4 linked regions of the Homo sapiens genome follow. The protein of the gene in region 1 interacts with the protein of each later gene in a pairwise test. Each region holds a gene or a part of one and is shown in the gene's direction. Other genes may lie near its edges.

Region 1 (7,354 bases):
ATTCTTGGCCGGGCGCGGTGGCTCACACCTGTAATCCCAGCACTTTGGGAGGCTAAGGTGGGAGAATCACTGGAGCCCAGGAGCAGCCTAGGCAACATAGTGAGGCATTGTCTTTATAAATTAATAATAATAATAATAGTAATAATTATTGAGTGCTTATGGTGGATCAGGCCTCATATGTGATGGGCACACACATACATCTCTTACAATTGCCACAGCAGTCTTAGGGTAGTTGTTAATTCTTGCTTTACAAAGGAGGAAGCCCAGGCTTGGACAGTTACAACAACTTGCTGGAGGCCACACAATGATTCCTGGGTAGAAAGCTGTCTCCCTGCCTTCAAAGCTATTTTGAGGCCACACAATGATTCCTGGGTAGAGACCTGTCTCCCTGCCTTCAAAGCTATTTTGTCAAAGGAAGTTTATATTTATTCAGTGTTTGAGAAACAGCTGCTCTCAGTTTTTAATGTTTTGCTAGGAGTGACTGTGCAGCCTGGATAGCAACAATGGTGGGTGTATTAGTCCGTTTCACACTGCTATTAAGAACTTCCCTGAGACTGGGGCATTTATAAAGGAAAGAGGTTTAACTGACTCACAGTTCCACACGGCTTGGGGAGGGCTCAGAAGACTTACAATCATGGCGGATGGTGAAGGGGAAGTAAGCCCCTTCTTCACAAGGCAGCAGCAGAGAGAAGAACGAAGGAAGAACTTCCAGACACTCATAAAACCATCAAATCTCATGAGAATCACTCAGTGCCATGAGAACAGCATGGGGGAAACCACCCCCATGATCCAATCACCCTCCCTCCCTCGACACATGGGAATTATGATTTGAGATGAGATTTGGGTGGGGACACAGAGTCAAACCCTATCAGTGGGCTTCTTTACGAAAGATGAGGTTTCCTTGGGAAATAACTCTTGGCTCTCTGAGGGCTTGGCCACTCTGACTTTGATCAAACTGGCAACTGGGGTATGTACCTGAGTGAGGTCAGGGGGCCCATGATAACTCGGTGACTTGCTGCCCCTTGCTCACTCCAGTTGGCAATGTCGGGGCATTTGGTCCCTGCTGTGGGGGCTCCCATGTCTGTCTGGCCCTTGGCCTCTCCTCCCCTGGTGGCCAGCTCTGCTGTGATCAGCTGAGCCTGCTGCTGGAGCTATGTGCTGGTTTCCTGCCTCTTCTTGGGCATTCTGGGCTCTAGGAACTGTTTGTTGGTTTCCTGTGGGCCATTCCTTTCCAGGATGGGCCTAGAGGCTGCAACCCTCCTAAGATCTGCCCACACCCCTGTCCTGAGGTGAGCTTCTCAAGAAGGTCCCCGGCTGAGCAAGGGGTGTCAGGAGCAAGAATGGAGGCAGGAGAGTGTGTGCGCCTGCTTTTTAGAGTGGGAGTGTGCACTCATGCATGAGTGGGAGGCTGTCATTAACTTGGCCATGGATGGCTGCCATTTTAAGCAGAACCAGATTTGCTGGCATGAATTGTTTAAATGATGGCAGGCACAAGCACTGCAGGGAGATCCTCCTAGCCTAAATTAAAGAAGCCACAGAGGGAAAAAATCCCAGACCATCTTGCTCCACACCTCCCTCCCCCGTCCCAAGCCTTCCGTCATCTGCGGGAATTTCAGTGCCTCACTGACACCTGAATGACAATCTTTTGTCATCCTGGAAGGCACCATGATGGTACCAAAGGACAACTGGGGAGCATTGGTTCCCTCCCCAGCCCCAAACAAACACGTTCTTCATCAGCCTCCTTAAGCCATCCCAAACAACCCACACGCTTAATACAACTATCGTGCCTTCTATCCGGGCAAAGTGCCATGTGTCTGTAGACACAGCTACTCAGGAGGCTGAGACAGGAGGATCGCTCGAGCCCAGGAGTTTGAGGCTGTAGTGAGCTATGATAATGGCTGTAAATAGCCACTACACTCCAGCCTGGGCAACATTATTGAGACCATGTTTCTAAATAAGCAAACAAAAATTGTGCTTTCTCTGCAAACAGAGTGTCTAGGGAAGTGCTTTTTACTTTCTTGTGCATTAAGATCATCTGGGGACCTTGTTAAGCTGTAGATTCTGATTCAGGAGGTCTGGAGTGGGGCCCCAAGAACCTGTATTTATAACAAGCTCTCAGGTAAAGCCAATGCTGCTCTCAGGGAAACCACACTTTCAGAATGGAAGTTCCAGATAGCCCTCCTCTGCCTCTGACCAGCCAGCTATGTGCCTGCTAACGTCATTCTGCTGTCAGAGGGAGTGTGGGGTAGGAGAGCAGGGTGGTCTGAAGTCTTTCTCTCTCTCTTTCTCTCTCTCTCTCTCTCTCACACACACACACACACACACACACACACACACACACACACACACAGGGCTTCATCGGCTCAGAGAGTTGCAAACCCAGACCCATGTTCTAGGCTGGGCTCTGCCAGGAACTGCTAGGAGTCGCATCTCTCTCTGGACCTCAGTTTCTTCACGTGTATTTGTGTATTCTCTGGGGTGGAGCTGGCGAATAGCTGGAGACCCCTCTAGCCCTACCATTTTTTGATTCTAATTAACCAAAAAGGATATTCGAGGTCCCCGCTACAAATTCTGAACCCTTGGCTTCCCCTCCAAACTCCCACACAAACTCCACCCCATCCTGCCTGTGTGTCTTTGGGAGGATCATTTCCTTCTTTGGTCTTGGTGTCCTTGTTTACAGGTTGAGGGATGATAAGAGTCACCTGATCTGGGCAAGTCAGGCCATAAATAAGGCTTGTATGTAAAGGTGCCTAGCATAGTTCTTGGCAAAGCAAGGATCAGTCGATATGATTGCATTGGTTTGAGCATCTGGGAAGAATGAGCAGACTGCATACTGTGTGTTAGGGTGTAGGGAGGAATCAGACGTGACCCTGCCCTCTAGTCATCTGGGTGCACAGATTCTAGATTAAAGGATGTGGGGGTGGTAACTAACAAGGAGATGGAGAGGAGGTGTGCAGTTCCTGGGGGATCTGATGAAGAATTAAAGCAGAAGGGTAGGAGATGGAGAATGGGAAGGCATACCTGAAACCCTAAAGCAACTCTTGATGAGTAGGCATTGGCAGGAGGCCCCAGAACATTTTCTGACCCTCAAACACTGAGAATGCATGTCTGCTGGGGAATAGTAGTGAGGGGGCTAAGGGTATGGGGGTGTTCATGCCTGAGTCAGGGGCTCTGGATGGTAGAAATGTCTGGGAGTTCTGACGGAATGGGGGTGAGGAGGCCTAAAGATAACCTGTTCATAGTCTTTCAGGGCCTTAACCATTATGGCTGGGGAAGTGGGAAGTGCCGATGGGGTATGCAGAGGAGGGCAGCTGTGATAGTACATTTCATCCTGAAAGCACTACATGTGGATAATGACGGTAGTGATGATGCCCTAATTTTAGTGTCATGGCAACATTTTCCAAGGGGATGGAATTGGGTACCCTCATTAGTGTCATTTTTGTTTGAGAGATTTCAAGAGTCTATCTAGGTGTCATTTTAAAATCTATTGAAAAAAAATCTTGAATGCAGGTCACTGACCAGTTGGTTCCATGTAACTGCACTGCCTTCTGCTACCACTAAAGCAATGTTATGACAACCTGGACAAGTCATGGGAAACCTATGTGAGACTTAGTTTTTTCTTTTTCTTTTTGGAGTTGGGGGTCTCACTATGTTGCTCAGGCTGATCTAGAGCTCCTGGGCTCAGACAACCCTCCCGCCTCAGCATCCCCAAGTGCCGGGATTACCGATGTAAGCCACTACACCCAGCTGAGACTTAGTTTTTTCATCTGGAAATGAAGGCGACCTTTGTGATCCCAGTGGGCCCTTGCACTTGTGTATAAGGTGATTCCCAGCACTGCTCATGAAAGTAGTGATGGCAGAGTAGCCTCTGCTCTCCATTTTATTTTTGGGGTGGGGGGGGGCAGTGGTGGAGGGGAGGATGAGGATGATATTTCCATTAAATAAGTTTCCTTGTTGCTTTTCTTCAGGCACCACTGACCTCGATGGAAAAATGAAGTCCCTGGCCCAGGAAAGAGACCCAACTCTGTGGCTGTTTTGGATTAGTTTGTACAATGCCCTGCAGACCTACTCTCTCAGGAGGCTCCAAGTGACCAAATGTGACAAGAAAGTTTTTTGTCCAAGGCAGTTTGGAAGAGAAGTTGGTGACCGTCGGGATACCACAGCCGCCCCAGGACGGCCTGGTTGAGACATTCACTGGAGGGTCTGGGTGCAGCCCGCTGCCTGGCCGGTAGGCGGCGCGCACAGGCCGTGGGGCCCGGGTCTGGGCGTGCGCGCGGCTGGTAGCAGCGGGGCCGCGCACGCCAGGGTCCGGGAGCCGGGCCGGTGCCCCCGGAGCCATTTCCGGGAGGGGCGAGGCCGGCGGCTGCCGGGCCTCCAATCTCGGCGGCGGCGGCGGCAACAGGGGAGCCTGGGTCTCGCGGCCTGCGAGTCCGTCGCGTGCTGAGGGAGACGCAGGAGGTGGAGCCGGCCGGGTGCTCGAGGGAAGGAGACTGGAAGCTGGTTCCGGCGTGAGGAGGTGGAGGGGCCGCCGCGGGCTCCGGGGGGCGGTGAGGGTCGGGACGGAGGCGCCGCGGGGTGAGGAGAGGACAGGGGCCGGGTGGGCCGAGGGCGGGCAGAGGCGGCGGGGCGGCTGCGGCCGGGGCGGGGGCGGGGGCGGGCTGAAGGCGTGGGCACCAGCCGCTGAGGTCCAAGCAAGTGGACGGCGGGCGGGCGCGGGGCCGCGGTGGGGCGGGTCTGGAGCCCACGCCTGCCGCGGGGTAGGCATGGGCGGCCAGGATTTGCTGGTCCTCCGACGGGAGGGGTGACAACGAGAGCGAGGCCGTGCTGATTCTGAAGGGAGTGCGGAGGAGGCAGGACCCTGGTAGCCTCGGCACCTTCAGCCCGGGTTAGGTGGCCTGGGCTGGGCTCCCCACCCCGATCGCGCGCAGACGGGGCGTTTCCCCTAGTTTCCACCTGGGTGGAATGCTTTGTGGGAGTCTGGGTCTGGATTAGTTTCATCAGCTGTGGGAGGGAAACCTAGTTGCAGCAGGATTTTGATTCGCTGGTCTGGGGTGCTAGGGGTGGACTGTGATATCTGGGAATGAAATCTGAGCCTTCAAAGGAGGGAGAGAACCATAACTTGGCTGCTCTGGCGAATCTAGGCGGGCTGGCGAGACAGTTTAAAGCTCTAGAAGTAAACAAACCTGGTTCCCTTTTACAGAGTCTGAAAAAGGGGAGCGCGGAGAGGAGGCTGGAAGAGGAAGATGCCTAGCACAGACCTTCTGATGTTGGTGAGCCTTTTGCAGACATCCTCCTGGTTCCAAGGCATTTGTCTCCGTTTTTTTAGTCCAAAGGATCCCAGTGTGTAGATTTCACCTCTGATGCTTGCTTTTGGTAGCTGAGCGTTTTGCCACCTTTTATTTTGTTTTGTTTTGTTTTGTTTTTTTGGAGACGGAGTCTCACTCTGTTGCCCAGACTGGGGTGCAGTGGCATGATCTCGGCTCACCGCCACCTCTGCCTCCTGGGTTCAAGCGATTCTCCTGCCTCAGCCTCCTGAGTAGCTGGGATTACAGGCGCACGCCACCACGCCCGGCTAATTTTTGTATTTTTAGTAGAGACGGGGTTCTCCATGTTGGCCAGGCTGGCCTTGAACTCCTGACCTGTGGTGATCCACCCGCCTTGGCCTCCCGAAGTGCTGGGATTCCAGGCGTGAGCCACCGCGCCTGGCCAACCACCTTTTATTTTGGATGAATGATCAGGATGAATAAATAGCTGAATTAAATACATCAATACAGTATATGTAGAACTTAAATTATTGAAGAATCTTTTTCAAAATTATTATTATTTTTTTTAAATGAGACAAGGTCTTGCTATGTTCCTCAGACCGGAGTGCAGTGGCTATTTACAGGCATAATCATAGCTCACTGTAGCCTGGAACTCCCACTTCAAGTGATCCTCTTGCTTCAGCCTCTGGAGTAGCTAGGACTAGGAGCACAGGTCACCTCTCCTGGCTTTCTTTTTCATAATTCTTGCAGTTTTAATCCCTCCCTTCCCGTACTACCAGAGCAGTTTTGAAACCTCTATTATTACGTTTTATCAGGGTCTGCCATATACTAGTTTATCTGAGTGTTTGTCTTCCAGATTAGAGTTATGGTTCCTCGACAGGCAGATAATCATGTCTTCTTTGTTTAGAGATGAATAAACACCTAGCATGGTGCTCTGAATATAGTATGTGCTTAACAAATGCTTGTTGGATTGAACCAGTATGAATTTAAGTTCTTTTGTTGGACAGAGAGGTATGCCTGCTTTAGAGCTGTTTCCTCTCCTCCTGAGATCTTTCTGTGCTGTTTTACTGAGCAGGGAAGAATAGCGTTGCTAAATGCATGTTTACCAAAATGACATTTTATTTTTGGGACTTTTATGATTCCTTATGGACTTCTTAGTGTGAGAATTATGGAGAGTTTATAGCTTTGAAATGGTGGTATAGAAAAAGTGTCCGGGTTTAGTTTTTTTTGTTTCGTTTTGTTTTGTTTTGTTTGTTTGTTTTTGAGATGGAGTTTAGCTCTTGTCTCCCAGGCTGGAGTGCAATGGCACAATCTCAGCTCATTGCAACCTTTGCCTCCCGGGTTCAAGCGATTCTCCTGCCTCAGCCTCCCGGGTAGCTGGGATTATAGGTGCACACCACCATGCCTGGGTAATTTTTGTTTTTTAATAGAGATGGGGTTTCGCCGTGTTAGCCAGGCTGGTCTCAAACTCCTAACCTCAGGTGATCCACCTGCCTTGGTCTCCCAAAGTGCTGGGATTACTTACAGGCGTGAGCCGCCGTGTCCAGCCAAGTTTGTTTGTTTGTTTGTTTTTGTCACTTCTCTGAGTGCAAAATCAGTGCTTTAAAAACAATTCATTTCTCTCTCTTTATCTCACTATCCCAGAGGGTGGGTTGGCGTCACTGGGAAACTGGCAAAAACTGGTAGTGAGATTTCCTTATACTGGGTGCTGACATCGTAGTGGCATAACCTGTAAGGTCTGCAGGGGGGCTAAAGAAGAGAGAAACTAAGTTTTGATCCATTGTGATTTGAGGCAGGGATCTAGGATAATTTTAGGTTGTATGTGAGAGACATAGATGAATACTTAGGTTATCCGCAGATCCCAATGAAAAGTTCATCTAAAATAGTATCTTGCCCCAAATTTCATGGATTTTTCAGTTTTAATTAATACCCTTATATAACTTAAAATTCTTATTCAAAGACCATTATGTTAGAAATACTGGAAACTATAAGTAAGCAAAAGGAAAGGGGATTTGTTAATCTCCCCTATCTCCTACATCCCCTTCATTCGCCTCTACCCCGTGCAGTAATTTATCACCCAGAAATAACCG
Region 2 (7,508 bases), on another chromosome or scaffold:
AATTTTGAAGATTTGGCTCTATATTTTAATTGACCTCATCACCTCGTTAACGTGCCCCCCAACCCCGCACCACCCCAGTCTTACCCCTAGAGCCAGCTGCTCATAACCAATCCTGGCTGTGGAAGGCACAGTGTCCCCAGGGTGAAAAAGAAACTTCTTCAGAGAACCTCCAGCTTTCAGCAGTTGTGTCAAAGCTGACTCCTGGTGGATGTGGACGTTGACGTGGGTGGGCTGGGATGGCCTAGAGGCCATAGCAACTCCATTCACAATCACCGTGTTTTGCGTCATCCTGCCTGCCAGGGAGAAGACATATAGCAGTGAGGTCTGGGAACTAGGCGAGGGAAAAATACACAGCACAGGTGAAAGGAGAGAAATAGTGTCTTTGTCAAGATCCCAGCTGGGCACAATAGCTCACGCCTGTAATCCCAGTGCTTTGGGAGGCTGAGGTGGGTGGATTACCTGAGGTCAGGAGTTCAAGACCAGCCTGGCCAATGTGGCAAAACTCCCTCTCTACTAAAAATACAAAAATCCGCACGGTGGTGTGCACCTGTAGTCCCAGCTACTCAGGAGGCTGAGGCAGGAGAATCACTTCAACCTGGGAGGCTGAGGTTGCAGTGAGCTCAGATCTTGCCACTGCACTCCAGCCTGGGCAACAGAGTGAGACTCCATCTCAAAAAAAACAAAAACAAACAAACAAACAAACAAAAAACAGTGTCTTTGTCAAAATTCAAAGGGGCTTCCCAGTGCAGATATCAATGGCACTGGAAATCAATAGTGATTTTACACATAAAAAAGTTAAGAGATACAAAAGGGTATATATACCTTTAAAACCTTATCGCTCATCTTTTTCCCTCAACCACCTATTTGCCTTGCAGATGCAAAGTAATATTATCAGTCTCTTATAAATCCTACCATGACATTTTTGCATACAAAAGTGTGAAAAAGTATTTCTGCCCCCTTTTCCCACAAATAGCAGCATACTATACACACTGATTTGCATGATGCTGTGATCACACGATCATATGTTTTTAGAATAATCCTACATGAGTCCATAAAAAGTGTCAACCTAAATAACAGAGAGAGGCTCTCCAAAAGAAAATGAGATTGATTCTGGAATAGGGCATTGCAATGAGAATATGCTTACCATAGTAAATCATGTGCACGTTCAGGGAGGTAAAGGAAGACAAAGGTTTTTAAAGGAAAAATGGGGAGACTTACATAATCTCTTTGAGGTGATCATCCTTGGCTACAAGGATCAATAACAAGGGTGACACAAGTCCAGGGTTAGACAGGCAGTTGCTGGTGGATGTCCTCACAGAAGTATTTTTTTGTGTAAGGTTGTCATTTTACAGAGTCCTTTGTGATGACTTTTGTTCCCAGGTTATTTACGCATGAGAACCCTGCCTTGTGGGCCTTCCATTTTCAGATTTTTTTTTTAACTCAAGTGACTCGATTATGATTCTGACAACTTTCACAAAAGCTTCTTCACTCATTTGTGTAACTGCATATATTTTGAGAGTATGAATTCCTCATAATTTATTTAAGTGGTTCCCTATTGGCAGACATTTAGGTTATTTCTAATCCTTTTCCATTACAGACAATGTGGAATTGGCAGGGCACCAGGAATGCGCATTTGCAATTTTAGTAGATATTGTCAGTTATCCTCCACGGAGGTGGTAGCAATTCACATGCAGGAGGCAAACTCTTTTATCTTTTTCCTTTTATATGGGGAAAAATGCATTGATTTTAATCAATTTTATGTAATAAAAATGTCCCATTTTAAATGTATATCTCAACGAGTTTTGACAAATTTACACATTTGTGCAATTACAGCTACAATCAAGATAAAGGACATTCCTACACAGCAATACATTCCCTAAAGCCCCTCCCCAGAAAATACCCCCAACCACTGGCCATGAGCAACCACTGACCTGCTTTCTGTAATGATTTCCATATATTTTTAATCCATGGTTTTCTTTTATTTCATTTTTTTATTATGTATTTATTTATTTATTCATTTTTTGAGATGGAGTCTCGCTCTGTCGCCCAGGCTAGGGTGGCGCGATCTCGGCTCACTGCCAGCTCCACCTCCCGGGTTCACGCCATTCTCCTGCCTCAGCCTCCCGAGTAACTACAGGCGCCCGCCATCAAGCCCAGCTAATTTTTTGTATTTTTAGTAGAGACGGGGTTTCACCGTGTTAGCCAGGATGGTCTCGATCTCCTGACCTCATGATCCGCCCGCCTCGGCCTCCCAAAGTGCTGAGATTACAGGCGTGAGCCACCGCGCCCGGCCAGTTCTCTTTTTTTAGAGAGAGAGATGGGGTGTTGCTTTGTTGCCCAGGGTGGTCTCAAACTCCTGGACTCAAGCAATCCTCCCACCTCAGCCTCCCAAAGTGCTGCAATTACAGGTGTGAGCCACCACGCCTGGCCCATAGTTCTCTTATTATGAGTGAGGTTGGTTGTCTTTTCATATGTTCAGGGCCATTTTTATTTCTTCTTTTGTGAGCTCTCCGTTCACATCCTATGTCCTTGTTTCGTTTTGTTTTGTTTTGCTTTTTTCTATGGAAGTTCTTTATCTATTCACAAAATTACCGTTTGTGATATGAGTTTCAAATGTTTCTTTACAATTTGAAGTTTATTTTTTGACCTTGCTTGTATATTCATACAATCCATGTTCTATTTCATTCTATTTATGGTGTCTAGCTCTTACACTTTTAAAGGACTTCCCCGTTTCGAGATTATAAAATAATCTTCCACATTTTCTTCTAAGTGCCTTTATGCTTTCAGTTTTCACTTTTAAATGCCGACCATCTGGAATTTGGGAGCTGGGTGACCAACCTTCGCCGTTGGGAGACACGGATCCAAGTTCTGTTGCTGTCATTCAGATGTTTAACTTCTGAAAGATACGTTCCATTTGCGGAAAATACATCCTCTTTTTCTCAGTGATTTAAAATTCTCTCCTGAGCAGAAATGAAGTTCCCCTAGGAATGTAGGCCTATTCTAGTCCTTATATTCTGCCCATTGGCATGTCTCATGGGCTAGGCATCATTACCACAATTTTAACATGGAGCTTAATGCTAATTGGGCTGTTTCATGATCCCCTCGTGTGGTTTTTCTTTCAGAATTGTCATGGCCATTTTTGCTAGACTACTTCTTCACATGCACTTTAGAATCAGCTTGCCTGGCTCTAAAATAAATCCTGCATAGGCAATTCTAATGGACATCCTGGCTAAGTATCACAGTTTAAATCAAATATTATTAACAATTCTAATAACACCTCCCATTCGTACTCTACCTACTTTTCAAAGCAGTTTCACTCTTTCACCCACCTGGCCTCCTTGGGGTTAGAAAGGACAGGAGTTAGACAATTCCGCACACGTACAAAGGAGCTTCAGACTGCTTCCAGCCCAGCCCCAGATTCCAGCCAGACCTTCCCTTGACGGCCCAGGCCTCGCCCTGAGGGCACCTCGGGTTCCAGCTACCTCCGGGCCCCCAGGACCACCGCTTCCCCCGCCCCACGCCAACCCCTAGATCTGCCTCGCCCCCGCCTGAAGAGTCGGATCTGAACCAGGCCGGCACCACGGAGATTCCCCTGCGGGCCGCCCGACGCCTGGTAGGTGGTGGGCTCTTCCCGGCTGCCCCGAACACTTTCCTCTGTCCAGCTCTTCCCGTGCCCCGGGGCTGGGGAAAGCGTCCGGCAGCCCCGCCGCTCCCTGGCCCCGTCCCAGGAGCCACCCCACCGTAGGGCTCCAGCCAGGGTCCAGGCGTGCAGGCGGCAGAAGGTGGACGGGACGCGCCAGCCCCAGGCCTCTCCTCCCGCTCTCCAGCCGTTTTTCTGGGGAGAAACACCTGCACCCAGCTGTCCCTCCCTCCTACGTGAGTCCTCCTGGAAACCAGGTTGGAGGAAGAAAGACGTCCTGTGGACAGGACGGGGTGGGGGCATGGCCCTGGGGACTCCTCGTGACAGAGGGTCCTGCGGCAAGAGGGTCTCCCGGGCCGCGGAGGCCCTGCCTCACCTGCAGTCCTCCGGGAGCCCGCGGCCGAGCAGAGCGGACACTAGCTGACCCCGAGCAGGGGAGCGACGGGAGGGCGGAGACGGCAGATGCACGGGTGGGGGCTGCGGCCCCGCCCAGGCTGCGCGGTTTCCCGAAACCAGCTGCGGCCCGGGGGCCCGGCAAAGGGGGTTCCGCCCGGAGGAGCGGACCGGGCGGGAGAAGACCGAGCCCCCGCGCGCCCCCTGCGCTCCCACTCGCGCACACTTGCACGCCGGCCCTGGCCGGGCGGGGCTGGAGGCGAGAACGACCCCACGGGCTTTCCCAGGGCCGTCCGCCCGCGGACCCTCCCAGCTCCCCAGAGCCCAGTGACCCTCGCGCAGCAGGAGAACCCCAGACGGACCCCAGGCCCTGCAGCCTGTCATGAACCCGAGGGGCTGAAGTTCAGCCCCACCCCCGCCTCCCCTCCCCGCCTCCCCCTCCAACTCTCAACCCACTTCTCCAGCCAGCGCCCCAGCCCTCCCGCCGCCCGCTCGCAGGTCCCGAGGAGCGCAGGTGAGGCGGCACCCCACTCCCGGCGGCCCCCGGGCCTCCTTCCGCACGCACCCCGAGCTGCCTCCGCACAGTTGGAGGAGCGTAGGAGGGACCCCCACCCAGGGATGACACTCCAGGAAGGGGACTGCAGAGGAAGCCAGGTGCGGCCCCGGCTTTTGACCTACCTCCGCACCGCAGCGCGGTCCTTCACGGGGCAGGGGCGGCGTGAACCCGTCGGGCGTGAGCAGCAGTCGGTGGAGCGGGAGGTCGGCGGTGGCGGGGATGGGGGTATCCGGAGCGCAGCCGGGGCGCAGCTGCTGGCACAGGAGCTCCACAGGCAGCCAAGGACTCGGTCCTGTCCCAGAGCCTGCGGACTGTGGAGGGGAGGCCGCAGGAAGAGCCCGGGAGGAGGGGGTGAGGGGTCGAGGTGTGGGGCGCTGCTTGACCCAGACGCCAGGGCCCTGGGAGGAGGATGAGGGGGACAGAGCAGATCTTGGGCGAAAGGGGAGGTTCCCGCAGGCTCTGTAGTCGCCGCAGTTCCAGCATGGTCAGCACCCCCTCTGCTACACACATTCCCCTCGTGAGGGGCCAGGGGTGCGGCCCTGTGACCAGGACAGCCATTCATTGGGTGACTTTGAGCCACCACTGGCCCCTGACCTCCCCAACTCCAATGAAATCTGCGAAAATCTTCTGACAGCCGTTCCTCTCTGGTGCTCCCTTCCTCATAGACTGTGTCCCTGACAATGGGAACAGCCGACAGTGATGAGATGGCCCCGGAGGCCCCACAGCACACCCACATCGATGTGCACATCCACCAGGAGTCTGCCCTGGCCAAGCTCCTGCTCACCTGCTGCTCTGCGCTGCGGCCCCGGGCCACCCAGGCCAGGGGCAGCAGCCGGCTGCTGGTGGCCTCGTGGGTGAGTGTGACGGCCTGCCTCGTCGGGCGGCGGGAGGAACTCCCCACCTCCAGCCGCAGCAGCACTCTCTGCCAGCCTCCCTCTGAACAGGACACCGAGCCAGTTATGTCTTCTTACTTAGCGATGTGATTCTCTGGCCTTCTCAGTAAGAGCCTGGGGAGGGGAGGCTCTGGGCTGAAGGGGTGTGGAGGAGCCACTGACCATGCAGAGTCCCAATCAGTGGAGCCCTGAGTCCATCCTTTCCTCTGGGCCAAACTCAGGATGGGCCGGCTCTCCTCTCCTTCCTTTCCCTTCTCTTTTCTCCTCCTCCTGCCTCTTCTTCTTTCTCCTTCTCCTCCTCTTTCTTCTCCTTTTCTCTTCTCTTCTCTTCTCTTCTCTTCTTTCTTTCTCTCTCTCTCTACCTCTCCCTCTCTTTTTGGGGTTTTAGCGGTTAATCCCTGCAGTGGCAGGTCCACCTAGGAGCCGGGATCTTGGGTCCTTTGTCTTTCAGGTGATGCAGATCGTGCTGGGGATCTTGAGTGCAGTCCTAGGAGGATTTTTCTACATCCGCGACTACACCCTCCTCGTCACCTCGGGAGCTGCCATCTGGACAGGGGCTGTGGTGAGTAGAGCAGGACAGTGCTTGACTGCCTGTGAGAGGGGTGGGGCATTGCTCTCCTGATTGCCTTCCTCCAACATGGCGCCACAGAATGCTGGCAGTCGGAGAGATCTGATTATCTAGGACCATTCCCTGCCTGTTCAGATGAGCAAACAGCTGAGGGCGGTGGTGGCATGTCCTATTCACACTGTCTGCTCTCCCATACCCTTCCCAGTGCTGTTCCCACCAGGCTGGCTGCCTCTCCCTGCCTTCAACAGTTAATGTCAACTAAGGATCTAAGGACCTGCTCATCTCCAGATACTTGCATTGAGATGGGGAAGGCAGAGCGTTCCAGATAGTATGTGGTCCCCCAGGAAGCATCACCCCCTGGTTATTCTCATTGTCCTCCACAGGCCCTGTACACAATGGAAACCCAGGAATTGTTGTCAACAGATGGGTGTGTGCAGTTTGCACAGGAGCTGGGTAGGCTGGTCATGGTACCTACACTCTCAGAATAGCACTAAAACACTCATATTTACTGACAGAAGCCGAGAGTAATTACCTTCACCCAGCCTGTGGCAAAATACCCAGCTTAATTACAGAATTAGCCAAACAGGATTCAGGTCCACCTGTCCACTGGGACATACTAGATTTCCTGTTCTTCAAGCCCAGCTGAGTGGATTATTGGGCACTGTTAGGACAGGCTTCTAGACCTAACAGTGCCCACTCTGTATAGACTCACCCTTCATTGAGATCTTCTCCAGCACCCCATGACTTTTATCCACAGGATCCCACCATCCCTAGAACTTTCATAAAGCACTTGGTGTTGTTTAAAAAGGAAGGTTTAGAAGGGAAGAGGGGCTCACACCTGGCTTGACCACAAGCTCTTAGGTGTCACTAAAGCAGGGCCTTTTGCAGCCTCAGGAGTTGGATCCAGGCTCCACCCTCTCAGCAATTATCTTACCATGGATAATAAAGCTTAGCATGAAACCTCCCGCCCAAGCTGTGTGCTGGGGAAGGGCCTGCATGGAGGCTCTCTCGTGGGAGAGGAGTTGCATTTCCTGTACTAAGCCTGCTCCTGGCTCAATCTCTCCCCAGGCTGTGCTGGCTGGAGCTGCTGCCTTCATTTACGAGAAACGGGGTGGTACATACTGGGTAAGTTCAGGGAAGGGCATGGGAGGGGACCAGGTTCAGGCTGGAGGTCACCCCAATCTCCTGCCCTGTTGCAGGCTTCTCTGGGCCTTGCCCTTTTTTCCCCCGACTGGACTCTGAGAGAGACTGAAACACAAAGATTTCTCTCTGCCTCCTCCCTCCCCAGGCCCTGCTGAGGACTCTGCTAACGCTGGCAGCTTTCTCCACAGCCATCGCTGCCCTCAAACTTTGGAATGAAGATTTCCGATATGGCTACTCTTATTACAACAGTGCCTGCCGCATCTCCAGCTCGAGTGACTGGAACACTCCAGCCCCCACTCAGAGTCCAGAAGAAGT
Region 3 (7,308 bases), on another chromosome or scaffold:
TCTGACGACAGGGATTATAAGAAATTTTAACATTTTAATTTAAATACTTCTAATTTTTTTCAGTGTAATATGATTTTACACTCATGGGAAAAAGGTTATTTCTTCCTCAGGTGGAAAAGAAAAAAGTGAAGGAGATATTAACAGACAAAATGGTAATTTGGAGTGAAACAACTTTGAGGAATGTTTTTCAGTATTAGAGAGACCTGTGTTTGTTTTGGTCCTGGGGTGGTGGGAGAAAGCCAGTGTTGGAAAGAGACTGAGAGTGAAGGGAATGTTGATTGGCCTGGGTTCCAGAGGGGCTGGAATAGAACATTAACATGGGCCAAACGGTAGGAATAAGGAAAGGAAAAGAGGATAACATATATAAAACTAAGGCAATTTTTTTAGGAGTAAGGGCATAAAAGGACTTACAGTCAATGAAACCTATGCTTTCCCAGTGGATTTGGAGAAAAAAGTAATCATCTGAGTGGGAGGGTTGGGACTGTGAGCTGGAGGCATAGAAGAGTATGTGGTTGCTGCTGGGCAAAGAATCGGCTCTGAATTATCAAGTATGCTTGTGAGATTCCTGGGCTCCATCCCAGATCTACAGAATCAGTCTCTGAGGGAAGCTGATTTTAGTGCATGCTAAAATCTGGAAACTTGGAAATAAAAGGTTAACTAAGAACATGGGGCCACTGCTGATGCTATATCACAATTATCTGCAATAGCGTTAATCAATACATTTATGATTTTCTTCAGCAACATTTAGCAGCCAGGGAAGAGAAAGTCTGAGAAAAAAAAAATGGATGGTTAGGCATACCCAGAGTTGGGCTTTGGCAACATGGGTGTAGAAGAAAATCACTGGGTCAATGGAACCTGAGATGCTGGGAAGCGCTTCATTAACGTGGGTAATCATGAGGTAATAATTAGGTGGAAAGGAAGGCTTTGAGGGACTGGAATTTAGAATTAGGAGGTGTAGGGGAAGTGAGGTCAGGGTGTGAGAGGCGGTTATACTTATAAACACCAGGCTTCTATCTTGGGATTGCGTGAGTGTAGGCAAAGATGGTTACCCAAGGCAAAAGTAGATAAACACAGAATAGAATGTTGGGGAGAAGAGAAGATAGGAAGGGGCAGAGCCAAGGGAACTATTAATAAAAGAACAGCATATGCCAGCCCTGGAGAATCAGTATGGCAGTGCATCCAGGAAAGCTCATCAGCTTTAGAACCATTGACAGCAGTCACCATACTCATTCTTTCCTCTGCATGTTGGCAAATGCAGAGTTAGCTCTCAGATGTTCCTATGGTGACAGCAGAAATTTTGGTTCAGTATCTTGCTTACAACTCTATTCTACTCTATGGTGTATTCATTCAGACATCTTAGTCACTTAGACTATTAATTCCTTAATAATAGAGATCTGGTTTTGTTTTTTCATTTTTAAATTCCCACTGCTTAATGCTGTGCCTGACACATGGTACATATTCAATGAAAACTTTTTCTGAGTGAATGAAATTTAAAAGCTTCCTCATGCTTCCAGTTAGAACTTTGGAGTCAGGGTATTTTGACAAAGGCTCCCTCCCAGATGGAATAAAGGAGGAATACTATTCATTGCTTACCTTCTTAAGATGCTTTTGAACATTTTGTTAGGTGGCTGGAACATTTTGTTCAGTGAATATTTTGTATGAGTAAGCTATGTTTGATGATGAGCTGTTCGTGGTGATGGAGGTGAGAAGTGTGACTGTCAATTGAAGGTAGTAAAACAGAAATAATAAAGATTCCATCCTCCTCTACCTAAGCATGAAATGTTCCATATCAAACTCTCAGTTCTCTTCAAACTCTCTCCCTAGGGAGCCTCTTTACTCCAGGCTCCAGTTATCACCACTATGAGCACACAGACATTCCTTCCTCATCTGGACCCATATCACTTCCTAACTTACATCGCTCAGAAGCCTCTGAGGCTCAGTTTTGCACAAGCAGAATTAATGATCTTCCACTGCACTTCTGGTCCTCTTCCAGGATTTCCTCTCCCAGGGCTCAGCAGCACCTTCCCCAGCAAGTTAGGAACTCAGGAACCAACTTTTCTCAGTCTCTTTTCCTCATCTCCCACATCTAATCCATGAAATTCTTCCAATTTTAAGATATAAAGAACTCTTGGATCCCTCCATTTCTCCACTGTCAAACTACCACCCAATTCTGGAATTCTGTAATACCCCCAAATGTATCTGCCTATGACCATTCCAAGCCCCCTCCAATCCCCTCTCCACCTCACAGCTCGGAGGATCTTTTCAAAACTCTAATCTGATCATGTCGTATTTCTGCTTAAACCACCTTAATGACTTACACTTTTAGCCCTAACTACCACTTACAAGGCCTAGTAAGGTCTGACCCTTGCCCACACCTCAGGGCTCATTTTGCATGCTGTACTCCTTCACTCTCTCTGGGGCCAACCACAGTAAATTTCTCTCATTCTTTGAGAGGCATCATGCTGTCCCCTACCCCTTACCCCCAAAGCCACCAAGGACTTTGTACATGCACTTTCTTCCCCACTTCATGTAGTTAATCCCATGCTTCTTTCTGATCTCAGTCCACACATGACTTCCTTGGAGAAGCCATCAGAGATCTCTCCAACAAAGTCAAATCCTTTTGCTATATTTGCTTATGGAAATATGGCCCCCATCTTTGCAGCATACATCTCAGTTGTGATTTTGTATTTATGTGTGTGGGATTATTTCACTTACATCTGTCTGCTTCACTAGACTCTAGGCTCTGTGAAGGACAAGAACCCTATGTGCTCTTGTTAAGTGCAGTGCTTGGCACATAATGAGTGTGCAGTAAATAGTTGTTAGATGAGTGAATGGGAAGACCAGAGAACGCTCTTGCATGTTATTAGCTGTAGTCACAGTAAGAAAGTCCTGTTTCTCTGGTCCATCCACTGGGACTTGGTAATGGTGTGGTCATAGGTAACTCTTCTAGACAATGGTATTTATGATAACTTCATCAGGAATTAAAGCCAAAGTGCTGAGGTTTTGTCCTGGTTCTGCAGTAGTGTGGCCTCAGGCAGGTTATAACTTTTTAAAGTCTAAATTCTAAATGTCACCTACAGATGAGAAGTCTCCTTCTGCCTTTGGCCTCTCACCAGCTGCTTTCTCCATGTCCTCTCCTCCCTCCCTTTTTGCAAAGCTAGGGGAGGGCCTGATGCAGAGCTGGCTTCCCTGTGGGAGGACTGGAAGGAACCACACAGCATGGATACTAATTCCATGAGTCCACATTGGTAATCAGAAACTAGGCCTGCCTTGCTATTTAGAAACTAATGCTATATTCTATTTCTTCAGATAAGCCAGTTTTGAAAAACAAGGCTTGAATATTTGGCAGGACAAGGAGCTACTCCCAAACACAGTTTCTTGCCAGCAAGGATGTCAATTTATCAAATTGAAAGGGTATAACCTAGGAGCCTCGGTTAGGTGTACTGGCTCCCTTTCTCGTTTGATTAGAATGACATACACGCTAATTGATCTCTTTCCGGCTCAGTCATCTCCATGCAGTAAAGAATTTCAAGCTGCTATTGTTTATTTCCTATGTATTATGTCTAAATATTTCATGGTGAATGAAGAAGAGTGACTATTTTCAAACTGGAATGCTTCTTCAGAAGAAACCCAAACTGGAATGTTTCTTCAGAAGAAACTTCAGAAGTCACCAAAAAGGTGACTCCTCCATCTTTCTGATTCTTGGATCCTAAAGTATCTTCAGCAAGTGAAGCCCAGTTTCATAACCGAAGAGGTGACTCCATCTGTCCTACAGACTTGCAGTGTGAAGCTTGCAATGGTTTCTCTGTATGTTAATTTCTCCATCTCTAGGATGGCCTATGTGGTTCTTACTAACCTCAGAGTGGTATCATGAAGCCACTGAAATGATACCAGAAGAAAACAAGAGTGATTAATCTTCTAGGATGATAAATCTATATTTTCTTCAAATTCTTCATTTTGCATAAAAACCTTTTTCAGAAAAGAATGTTAACATTGGATATATCTACACCTGATTTGACAGTTCCAAACTACACCCCAACCACCCACTTCTGAATGAGAAGAAAAAAAAATCAGAAGCCTGCAATTGTGTAACATGAAAATCTTTTCTGGACCAGGGCCCGTCACTGTGATTTGGCAACACAACTGGCACATCTCTTTTCTCATCTCTTGAAAAAAACCAACAGAGAAAAAAGTACCTTGAGAATAAAGGTAATGATTAATCTGTCAGGCACAAAAGGGATTGTTTTGGGGATTTCGGGTTCTAAGTCGCAGATTCAAACAAATAGCAGCGAACAGGGAATGACAGTTCCACCAGAAGACGATTAAGCCACAGCCTCTAATTGGAACGGCATTTGTACAGTCAGAGACTCTTACCAGACATCTCCAGGAATCTGTGAGCCATTGTCAAAACGTCCATTTTCATCTGGCTGTGAAAGTGAGGACCACAACAGGTAGGTATTGGTAGAAACAGGAGTCCTCAGAGAAGCCCCAAGATGCAGCCTGAGGGAGCAGAAAAGGGAAAAAGCTTCAAGCAGAGACTGGTCTTGAAGAGCAGCTTAGCGAAAGAAACCCTCTCTGAGTTCTTGGGCACGTTCATCTTGATTGTAAGTATTTCCTGATTTCCTACATTCAGACCCAATAATGCCTCCCTAGCTGCCAGGCTGGTAGTGGAGAGTTTTGTTTGGTTTGTTTTATTTAAGTTAATTGGGATCAGATTCATCTTTTCCAGGAAGAAACAAGTTACTAGAGGCTGTTTGACTATTTAGGGGTTGTGATATTAAGTTTTCAATTACCTATTGCATTTACCCACAAAAGTTGATGGGAATGGAAGAGAAGGAGTGAGTGAAGTGCCTTCTTTATTTCAGGTATTTACTTATACTCTAAAATGGCTTTGTGATTTAAAAGTCAGTCGTTAGTGTTTTCATTGATCAATTGATTTGTACCCTGCTTGCTTCCTCCAAGCATTGGGGTGACTCAGCCACCTGGAATAAGCATCAATAGTCAATAAATATAGTTGGCAAAAATATACATATGGATGGCAAGAAACATCTCAGTATGACAAGTACTTGACAAGTATTGTGCTGTCAGATCACTTGATTTTTAAGAAATTAAAAATTGCACTAGGTAGAAATAGTGTACCAGGCAATAGTCCAGCTTTAGTTTTGTGTCATTTTTGGTCTCTATTTAAAGCAAAGTAATCTCTAAATATCTTTGGAGATTTACAAGACAATTACAAGAACCTTCTAGATATAAACGAGGGACGACTTCTAAGAACCTCTTGAGGATTGCCCAGAGATTTACTCAGCTATTAACAAGAGACTGGAAAGTTTACTTAAGTGGTCTGGGCTTTCATTTTGCTGCACGTTCTAGCATTCTCTGTATCCTGAAGTTTTACCTGGAACCAGGCCATTTGTGAATAGAAATGTATTATCATGTGGCAACTATTGATTTCAACTGGTTTTTTTTATCCTGCTTAAGGATTTCCTACTCCAGGTATAAATAATTTCATTTTCCTTAAAGTTATAGAGAATAGCCCATAAACTCTGTGCATTAAAAGTTCTTTGCTTGGGGCAAATACATAATAATTTAGAAGAATAAGCTTGGAATGCATCAGCTAAGCCAAGAATGAGAAACAAATGTGAACTCAAAAAATTGAACTAGTGGAATGTGAAGAGAGAGTCATAAGTTTTCTGGTCTCTGAGAAACACATTAGACCAGATTCGTTACAGTATTTTCAGGGAGTTACGGACAATTTCTTGCACTCCTCATCTTCCCTTGGCATTCATTCCTGGCTGCTCTGACCACACTCACTGTCATAATGTAGCAAGACATTATGTAGTAAGACATTATGTAAGTAGTTATTTCTAACTAAAATAAAAGAAATAAAAGAGAGAAGATGAAAGTCAGTGATTCTTATGATTCCCGGTCACTGCTTACTGGAAAATCTTTCTTAGTGAGACTGAGACCCCTCTGTCATGTTACTTGACAATCTGGCCCCAAAGAAGCAGTTGTCAATACAGAGTGATTACAGCCTCACAGTGACGAGTGAGTCAGAAAAGTGAAGCAAATTCAGTTACAATTCTTAGTGCTCTGCAGAAAACAGAGGAGGAAATGAACTACACATCTTTTTTTTTTTTTTTTTGCAACCAAAAAGTTTAAAACCCTCTGTATTTCTTAAGAAGAACCTGTTTCATAATCCCGTGCTTTCTGTGTTGAAAGTGAAATTTGCTTTCAGCAGTTCACTGTTCAACTGGCCTTGTGTCTTCCCCACTATGCAAGGTAGGGGCTAAATAAAGAACATCTTGATATTGTCTGTTGAAAAATTAAAACTTGTATGTTCTGGATAAAGCCAGTCATTTCCTGAAATATTTAATTTCCATTTATACTATACATTTATTTTCTAAAGTGAACCCTAATAAAATCTGCAACCTTGATTATCATCTTCAGTTTTGTTGGAGCTTGTGGGGATGTATAAACAAAAAGTTCCTGCACAAACACAATTTTTTTAAACCAAGAAATCTACATGGTTTTGCTGAAAGTTTATCCAAAGTAATTTTCTGCTTTATTAGAGAATGTGCATTTTGCCTTGTATTTTCTAGTAAAAAGCTTTGTACATTGATAAGGCAAAGGGAAGGGGAACATCGAAAAGATGGCAGAGGATATAAAGGACTCAGTCTTTCAAATATGTGAGATTGTTTTTTTTCCGCCAACCTTGGGAGTCTGGTTCTATTTTTTTTCCCTCCTTTCAAAAACTGCTCTTATGGGGAGCATCTCAAACTAATCTAACACCATGGTATAAATTACGGGTCCCCAACACATGGGCCACGGACTGGTACAGGTGGTCCCTGGTGCTAAAAGGTTGGGAACAGTTGGTATAAAGGACTGATAAGGCCTACTGGTAGCATTAAGAGAAAAGAAGGTCCATGAAAAATTCTTTATAAACTACAACTAAAACCAACAACAATTAAGTCATAAGCCAAAAAGCTAGCTCTAATTTGGCCTTTTAGTCATTGGGATACGTAGGCCTTTCACCTTTACTAGTGTGGGGGGAAAGTTTGCAATGCAAAAGGCTGATCTCTTCCTTGGGCTGAACTTCAGAGAATCTCTAGTCATGTCTAGTCATTTCTCACAGGGACTATGCTCACTCCTACTACTCTATATATTCTCCTCTCTCTTCAAACTTTTCAGGATTCTTTGATACAGAGCTCATCTTATTGAAGATGCTGAAGTGAACAACCCAGCAAGCAGCTGTATTTCCTCCTGAGGTGGAAGGACAGCTTTCCAGGGCTGGACTTTTGAGTAGATAAC
Region 4 (7,129 bases), on another chromosome or scaffold:
TGGGAGTGCCCACAGATACTGTCAGCAAGAAGTGCCTGAGTACACCTGCGACTGTGCGCTTGGCTGCTTTGGCACATGAACGGGATTTGCAGCAGAGTAGGTGTGGAAGTTGGGTAAAGGTGACTACTTATGCATTCACCGCTTGAGAAAAGCAACAACTCTGTTGATGTGAGGCCTCTAGGCCTGACGGACAGGTGCTCCATAGACCCACAGACAGCAAAACTCTCGCCTACTCCCTGAGGGTCAGTCCGAAGAGAAGGGAGAGGGAAGAGGGGCGGCTCTTCTGACCTGGGGACCCCTGAGGCATCTGGGCCAGGCTTCCCATACTTGAACTGGCCCAGCACAGATGCCTGGCCCCAGAAGGGCACAAATGGAGATGATCCTTAAAATATCTTTCCTGAAAGAGACAAAGCCAGCTGGATGGGTTAGCCTCTGTACCAGGAGCATTTGATTACAAATCATGAGTTCAAGTGGGATCCCCTGTGGCTGAGCAAGTAAAGCTGGGTGTGGCTTTTCTGCTTTTTGTTTTCTGTTTAAGAGATGGAGCTCACTCTGTTGCCCAGGCTGGAGTGCAGTGGTGCAGTCATAGGATACTGCAGCCTCAAACTCCTGGACTCAAGAGATCCTTTGGCCTCAGCCTCCCCAGTAGCTGGGACGATAAGCCTGCATCACTACAACTGGCTAATTTTTTAAATTATTTATTTATCCAATTATTTTTGAGATGGAGCCTCGCTCTGTCACACAGGCTGGAGTGCAGTGGTGCAATCTCCACTCACTGCAACATCTGACGCCTGGGTTCAAGCGATTCTCCAGCCTCAGTCTTCTAAGTAGCTGGGACTACAGGGGCATGCCACTGCGCCCGACTAATTTTCTTGTATTTTTAGTAGAGACAGGGTTTCACCATGTTCGCCAGGCTGGTCTCAAACTCCTGACCTCAGGGGATCTGCCTGCCTTGGCCTCCCAAAGTGCTAGGATTACAGGTGTGAGCCACCGCACCTGGCCTCAATTTTTTTTTTTTTTTTTTTTGAGACAGAGTTTCGCTCTTGTTGCCCAGGCTGGAGTGCAATGGCACAATCTCACTGCAACCTCTGCCTCCCGGGTTCAAATGATTCTCCTGCCTCAGCCTTCCTGAGTAGCTGAGATTACAGGCAGGCACCACCATGCCTGGCTAATTTTTTATTTTTAGTAGAGATAGAGTTTCTCCATGTTGGTCAGGCTGGTCTCAAACTCCCGACCTCAGGTGATCCGCCCACCTCGGCCTCCCAAAGTGCTGGGACTACAGGCATGAGCCACCGCGCCCGGCCTGGCCTCAATTTAAAAAAAAAATTTTTTTGTAGAGACGAGGTATTGCTTTGTTGCCCAGGCTGGTCTTGAACTCCTGGGCTCAAGCGATCCTCCTGCCTTGGCCTCCCAAAGGGTTGGGATTACAGGCATGAGCCACCATGTCCAACCAAGTTTTTCCTGTTCTAAACAAAACTGTGATGAACAAATTCAGTCCTCCTTTCCACACAGCATCACCCCCAGCCTTTACTCCTGTAGGCCCCTACTTCCCCTTCTGTAATGGAGACAGTGTTCTCTGTTCTCCCCTCAGGTCCTTCCCCAGGGCCCAGGATTAGAGTGAGGGAGTGAGGCACTAACCCTGAGAGCAAAATCTACAGGCATGCCAAAAAACAAACAAAAAAAAGTAACCAAGATAAATAATATTTTAATGCAGTATTGTAAAACTTCAAGATTAATGCAAAAAAATCCATGATGGACAAAATATCAAAATTTTAAATAAAAACAGGAGCTAACCCTGCACTTTCACATCCCTGTCTCAGGAATCCCTGGCCCTGGTTCCAATAAAACTTTATTTACAAAAACAGGTGGCCAATGCCACGCCCCCAACCCCACCCCTCACCCCTGTCTTTTGACAATGTGATTTTTTAAAACATTCTTAAATATTTTGTATTGCGGTAAAATATACATAATATAAATTTACCATTCCAACCATTTTCAGTGTACAGTTCAGTGGCATTAAGAACATTCACATTGTGCAACAAAATAATTTTTTTTTTGAGACAGAGTCTCTCTTTCTCGCCAGGCTGGAGTGTGGTGGGGCGTTCTCGGCTCACTGCAACCTCCAACTCCCAGATTCAAGCGATTCCCCTGCCTCAGCCTCCCAAGTAGCTAGGACTACAGATGCGTGCCTCCACAGCCAGCTAATTTTTGTATTTTTAGTAGAGATGGGGTTTCACTATGTTGGCCAAGATGGTCTCGATCTCTTGACCTCGTGATTCGCCCACCTCGGCCTCCCAAAGTGCTGGGATTACAGGTGTGAGTTACCGCACCCAGCCAACAATATAATTTTTTAAATATTACGTTCAGGTATTAGATATAGTGATGACTGAGTTTTGGGGTGCCCCATTAAATTTTGCCCTCGAACATTATTAAAAAGTCAAGAAACAGTAGATGTCTGCGTGTATGTAGTGAAAGGGGGATGCTTATGCTATGCACTGCTGGTGGGAATGTAAATTAGTACAACTTGTTTGGAAAACAGTACAGAGATTCTTTAACAAACTAAAAGTACACTTTGGGGCTGGGCGCGGTGGCTCACGCCTGTAATCCCAGCATTTTGGGAGGCTGCGGCGGGAGGATCACTAGAGGCCAGGAGTTCGAGACCAACCTGGCCAACATGGTGAAACCCCGTCTCTACTAAAAATACAAAAAAATTAGCCGGGCGTGGTGGCACGCGCCTATAGTCATAGCTACTCTGGAGGCTGAGGCAGGAGAATCGCTTGAACCCGGGAGGCGGAGGTAGCAGTGAGCTGAGATTGTGCCACTGCACTTCAGCCTGGGCAACAGAGTGAGACTCTGTCTCAAAAAAAAAAAAAAAAAGTGCACTATGGGAGGCCATGGCAGGCAAATCGCTTGAGCCCAGGAGTTTGAGACCATCCTGGGCAGCATGGTGAAACCTCGTCTCTACAAAAAATACAAAAATTAGCCAGGCGTAGTGGTGCATGCCTGTAGTGCCAGCTACTTGGGAGGCTGAGGTAAGAGGATTGCTTGAGCCCGGGAGGTCGAGGCTGCAGTGAACCAAGATCGCACCACTACTCTCCAGCCTGGGTGACAGAGTGAGACCTTGTCACGGGAAGGGAAGGGAAAGGAAGGGAAGGGGAGGGGAGGGGAGGGGAGGAGAGAAAAAGTAGATTCACCATTCGGTCCAGCAATCCCACCACTGGGTATCTACCCAAAGGAAAAGAGTCATTATATGAAAAAGACACTTGCACACGAATGTTTGTTTTTTGCAGCCCAATTCACAATCGAAAAGATATGGAACCAACTTAAATAACCATCAACCAATGAGTGGATAAAGAAAATGTAGTTGATATACACGATAGAATACTACTCAGCCATAAAAAGGAACGAAATGAAGTCTTTTGCAGCAACTTGCATGGAGCTGGAGGCCATTATTCTAAGTGAAAGTGATTCAGGAATGGAAAACCAAACACTGTATGTTCTCACTCATAAGTAGGAACTAAGCTATGAGGACGCAAAGGCATACAGAGTGATATAATGGACAATAGGGAGAATGGGAGGGGGTGTAACACACACACACACACAAAACCCTACACATTGGGTATAATGTACACTACTCGGGGGACAGGTGGACTAAAATCTCAGGACTTACCACTATACAATTCCTCCATGTAACCAAAAACCACTGGTACCCCAAAAGCTACTGAAATTTTAAAAACAAACAAATATTTGCACCCGAGGCGAGCACCTCATTCGCCTCTCGCTCTCTCGGGCACCTCCTGGAGCCAGAGGGTCCCATGCGGCCAGCTCCTCCGTGGAAGCAGTTGAAGTTATTCCAGCAGCGATCAGGCCACCGAGGATGTCCGCCCAGACAACCACCCGCGACGGGGAGACTCGCTCCGCCTGTGTCCGCCCACCCTCCTCCCGCGCGGGACACACCTGGCGGGCGCGGCACTCCCTGTCCGCGGCCACCTGGCGCGCAGCTCCCGGCGCCGGGCCCGCCCCTCGCGGCTCTGCCGGGGCTCCCGGCCGGCCAATGGGAGCGCGGTATGCAAATGAGCAGGTGCGGTGGCGGCCCGCCCGGAACGGCCGCGGGGCTCCCGGGATGTTAGAGGCGCTCAGGGTGGCAGCAGAGCAGACGCCGGGCTGCGCGCTGGGAGCTGCGGTCTCCGGCCATGGCCCCCGCTCCGCCCCCCGCCGCCTCCTTCTCGCCCTCCGAGGTCCAGCGGCGCCTGGCGGCCGGCGCGTGCTGGGTCCGCCGCGGGGCCCGCCTCTACGACCTCTCCAGCTTCGTGCGGCACCACCCGGGGGGCGAGCAGCTGCTGCGGGCCAGGGCGGGCCAGGACATCAGCGCCGACCTGGACGGGCCGCCGCACAGGCACTCGGCCAACGCGCGCCGCTGGCTGGAGCAGTACTACGTGGGAGAGCTCCGCGGGGAGCAGCAGGTACAGCCGGGCCGGGGCCCCCCACCCCAACCCAGGCCTCCGTCAGCCTTCCACTCCCGGGCGAGCCCCGTTCACTTGCCCTCTAGCAGGACCCAAGGTGACAGCTTCTGCCCTCCCTTCCCTCGCTTTCCCTCTCTTCTCTCCAGGCAACAGGTCACTGTCGTCCCCTCCAACCCCTCCTTCCTCTCTCCAGGAACTTGCTCTTCCTTTCCACCCTTACCGCCTGGCCCGCCTCCGTGCCAGCTCTCCCATTTCCCCAGCACCCCTCCTTCCAGCGTGTTCCTTCTGCAGCCCCTGCCCTCCGACAACCTGGATTCCCGTTTCTGTCCCCAGCCCCCCATACGCCTCGGCTTTCCTTCCTCTTCACTTATCGGCCTCTCCCTCTTTGCAACCACTCTCCGTTTCTGTTTGGATAATGGGCTCAACCTGTTCCCACCTCCCCATCCCACCTCACTTCTGCTTCAAAGAGGCACAGATCAGTAACTCTTCTCACTAGCTTGGGTTTCCTGGTGCCGCCCTGGCCTTGCCTGGGCCATGTCTGGGGTGGACTGTGTCCTCCAACCTCTCAGACCTTCCCTTATATTCTTGTCCTACACGCTGGCTTGGGACTCCAAAAGAGTGAAATGAAAGGCATGAGCCAGTTTTGCCAAGGAAAAGGGACCAGCACTTTGGACCAGACTGTGTGCTGAGCTGCACGCTTCTGTGCAGTACCAGCTCCCGATGGTATTTAAGTCCTTAACTCAACCTGGGGCAGGTTTTGTTATTCCCATTTCAGGATATGGAATCTGAGGCTCAGGGAGGCTCTGATTAATGCGCCTAAGGTCAAATAGCTAAATAGTGGGAAAGCCACATGTATCTGACTCCAAAATCAATGCTGGCTCCATCCCAAAAGTCTTCGGGTGGAGGAGACAGACCTAGTCCACAGGATTCCAGGTAGGCTCAGGCCAGAGGCAAAGCGACTCTCTTGATGTTCCCCAGGCCTGGCTCTGGGACTGGTATGGGGCCATCATGCTTAGATATACAGTAGTTCCCCCTTGTCCAAGGGGATACATTTCAAGACCCTCAGTGGATCCTTAAAACCACAGATAGTACCGAATCCTATATATGCTATGTTTTTTCCCATATATGCATATCTATGATAAAGTTAAATTTATAAATTAAGAACAATAGGAAGAGATTAACAACAACAATAATAGAATAGTTACAACAATATACTGTAATAAGAGCTATTTGTATGTGGTCCCTTTCTCTCAAAACATCTTATAGTACTGTACTCACTCTTCTTGTGATAATGTAAGATGATAACATGAGGCCAGGCAAAGTGGCTGACATCTGTAATCCTAGCACTTTGGGAGGCCGAGGTAAGAGGATCGCTCGAGCCCAGGAGTTCAAGACCAGCCTGGGCAACATAGGGAGACCTTGTGTCTACAAAAAATACCAAAATTAGCCGGGTGTGGTGGCATGTGGCTATAATTCTAGCTACTTGGGAGGCTAAGGTGGGAGGATCACCTGAGAGGTGGAGGCTGCAGTGAGCCATGATCATGCCACTGCACTCCAGCCTGAGCAACAGAGTGAGAGCTCACCTCAAAAAAAAAAAGATAATAAGATGCCTACATGATGGGTTGGAGTGAGGTGAATGACAGGTGTGGTGATGTGGCATTGGCTACTATTGAAAAGTAATTTAAAACTTATAAATTATTTCTGGAATTTTCCATTTAATTATGTTTTTGGACCCAGGTTGACCGTGGGTTACTGAAACCATGGAAAGTGAAACCGTGGATAAGGGGGACTCCTGAAAACCAACAATTGTCCCCTGCTTCTAACTCTTGCTTTCAAGATGAGCCCAGCAACTACTCTTAGATCTTTGGTTGAAAGGACTTAGCACCCACTGTTTCAGGTGGCTTTTCATTGGGTCATCCTGCCTAATTTCTCCATCATTTATTCAGTCATGGAACTGGTTCCTTAATGGGTTGACAGCACTGTGCTGGGTGTGGGGAGATATCAATGAACAAAACGAATTCGGTTCCTGTCTTCATGGAGCTAATGGGATAATGGGGAAGGAGAGGGAACACACAGATCACATGATAGTTGCTTAATTAATGGTGTATCAGAGTACGGATCTAGAGGGGAGGAGCATAGAGAGCCTTCTTGAGAAAGCGACATTGACACTGAGAGCTGATTGATAGGCTGGGCTTAGCCAGGTGGCATGTAGCAGGAAGAATATTTTGGGCAAAGGGAACAGCACGTGTGAAGGCTCTGGCAGGAAGAGCTTGACATAGTAAAAGACTGCAAATAAAACCAACGTGGCCAGAGGCTGATGGGCAAAGACAGGGATGTGGGGGGAGGCCAAAAGTCGGCCGGGGCCACATCACACGGGGCTTCGTAGGCTGTGGTCAGGATTTGGGACTTGACTCTAACAAAAATGGGAAGCCAGGTGAGCCCGGGAGGTGGAGGTTGCAGTGAGCCAAGATCACGCCACTGCACTTCAGCCTGGGCAATAGAGCAAGACTCCATCTTAAAAAAAAAAAAAAAAGGAAGCCAGGGAAGAGGTTCAGGCAGGGTTCATGGTCAGATTTGCATCTTTAGAAGAGGACGCTGGCTGCAGTTTCAAGGAGGAACAGAGACAGCCTAAGTGGGTGTGAGGAGATCAGGCAGGATGCTGCTGC

What was found.
Region 2: the proteins of SGPL1 (region 1) and TMEM176A interact in binary tests that used the Homo sapiens proteins (3 or more experiments, as listed by UniProt).
Region 3: the proteins of SGPL1 (region 1) and AQP9 interact in binary tests that used the Homo sapiens proteins (3 or more experiments, as listed by UniProt).
Region 4: the proteins of SGPL1 (region 1) and FA2H interact in binary tests that used the Homo sapiens proteins (3 or more experiments, as listed by UniProt).

The regions. Positions count from the first base shown.
Region 1 is NC_000010.11:70,811,611-70,818,964, forward strand, and holds the start of SGPL1 (sphingosine-1-phosphate lyase 1), read left to right. Parts: upstream 1-4,337; 5' UTR 4,338-4,516; exon of another isoform or gene 4,517-4,575; intron 4,576-4,672; exon of another isoform or gene 4,673-4,885; intron 4,886-5,200; 5' UTR 5,201-5,243; coding exon 5,244-5,270; intron 5,271-7,354. UniProt on the Homo sapiens protein: Cleaves phosphorylated sphingoid bases (PSBs), such as sphingosine-1-phosphate, into fatty aldehydes and phosphoethanolamine. Elevates stress-induced ceramide production and apoptosis.
Region 2 is NC_000007.14:150,796,282-150,803,789, forward strand, and holds the start of TMEM176A (transmembrane protein 176A), read left to right. Parts: upstream 1-4,487; 5' UTR 4,488-4,547; exon of another isoform or gene 4,548-4,651; coding exon of another isoform or gene 4,652-4,687; intron 4,688-4,711; exon of another isoform or gene 4,712-5,079; intron 5,080-5,254; coding exon of another isoform or gene 5,255-5,269; coding exon 5,270-5,443; intron 5,444-5,933; coding exon 5,934-6,044; intron 6,045-6,433; coding exon of another isoform or gene 6,434-6,538; exon of another isoform or gene 6,539-7,118; coding exon 7,119-7,175; intron 7,176-7,338; coding exon 7,339-7,508. Other genes in the region: TMEM176B (transmembrane protein 176B), read right to left, coding at 85-293, 3,330-3,337, 3,741-3,943.
Region 3 is NC_000015.10:58,134,073-58,141,380, forward strand, and holds the start of AQP9 (aquaporin-9), read left to right. Parts: upstream 1-4,308; 5' UTR 4,309-4,493; coding exon 4,494-4,604; intron 4,605-7,308. UniProt on the Homo sapiens protein: Aquaglyceroporins form homotetrameric transmembrane channels, with each monomer independently mediating glycerol and water transport across the plasma membrane along their osmotic gradient.
Region 4 is NC_000016.10:74,771,820-74,778,948, reverse strand, and holds the start of FA2H (fatty acid 2-hydroxylase), read left to right. Parts: upstream 1-4,128; 5' UTR 4,129-4,193; coding exon 4,194-4,463; intron 4,464-7,129. UniProt on the Homo sapiens protein: Catalyzes the hydroxylation of free fatty acids at the C-2 position to produce 2-hydroxy fatty acids, which are building blocks of sphingolipids and glycosphingolipids common in neural tissue and epidermis.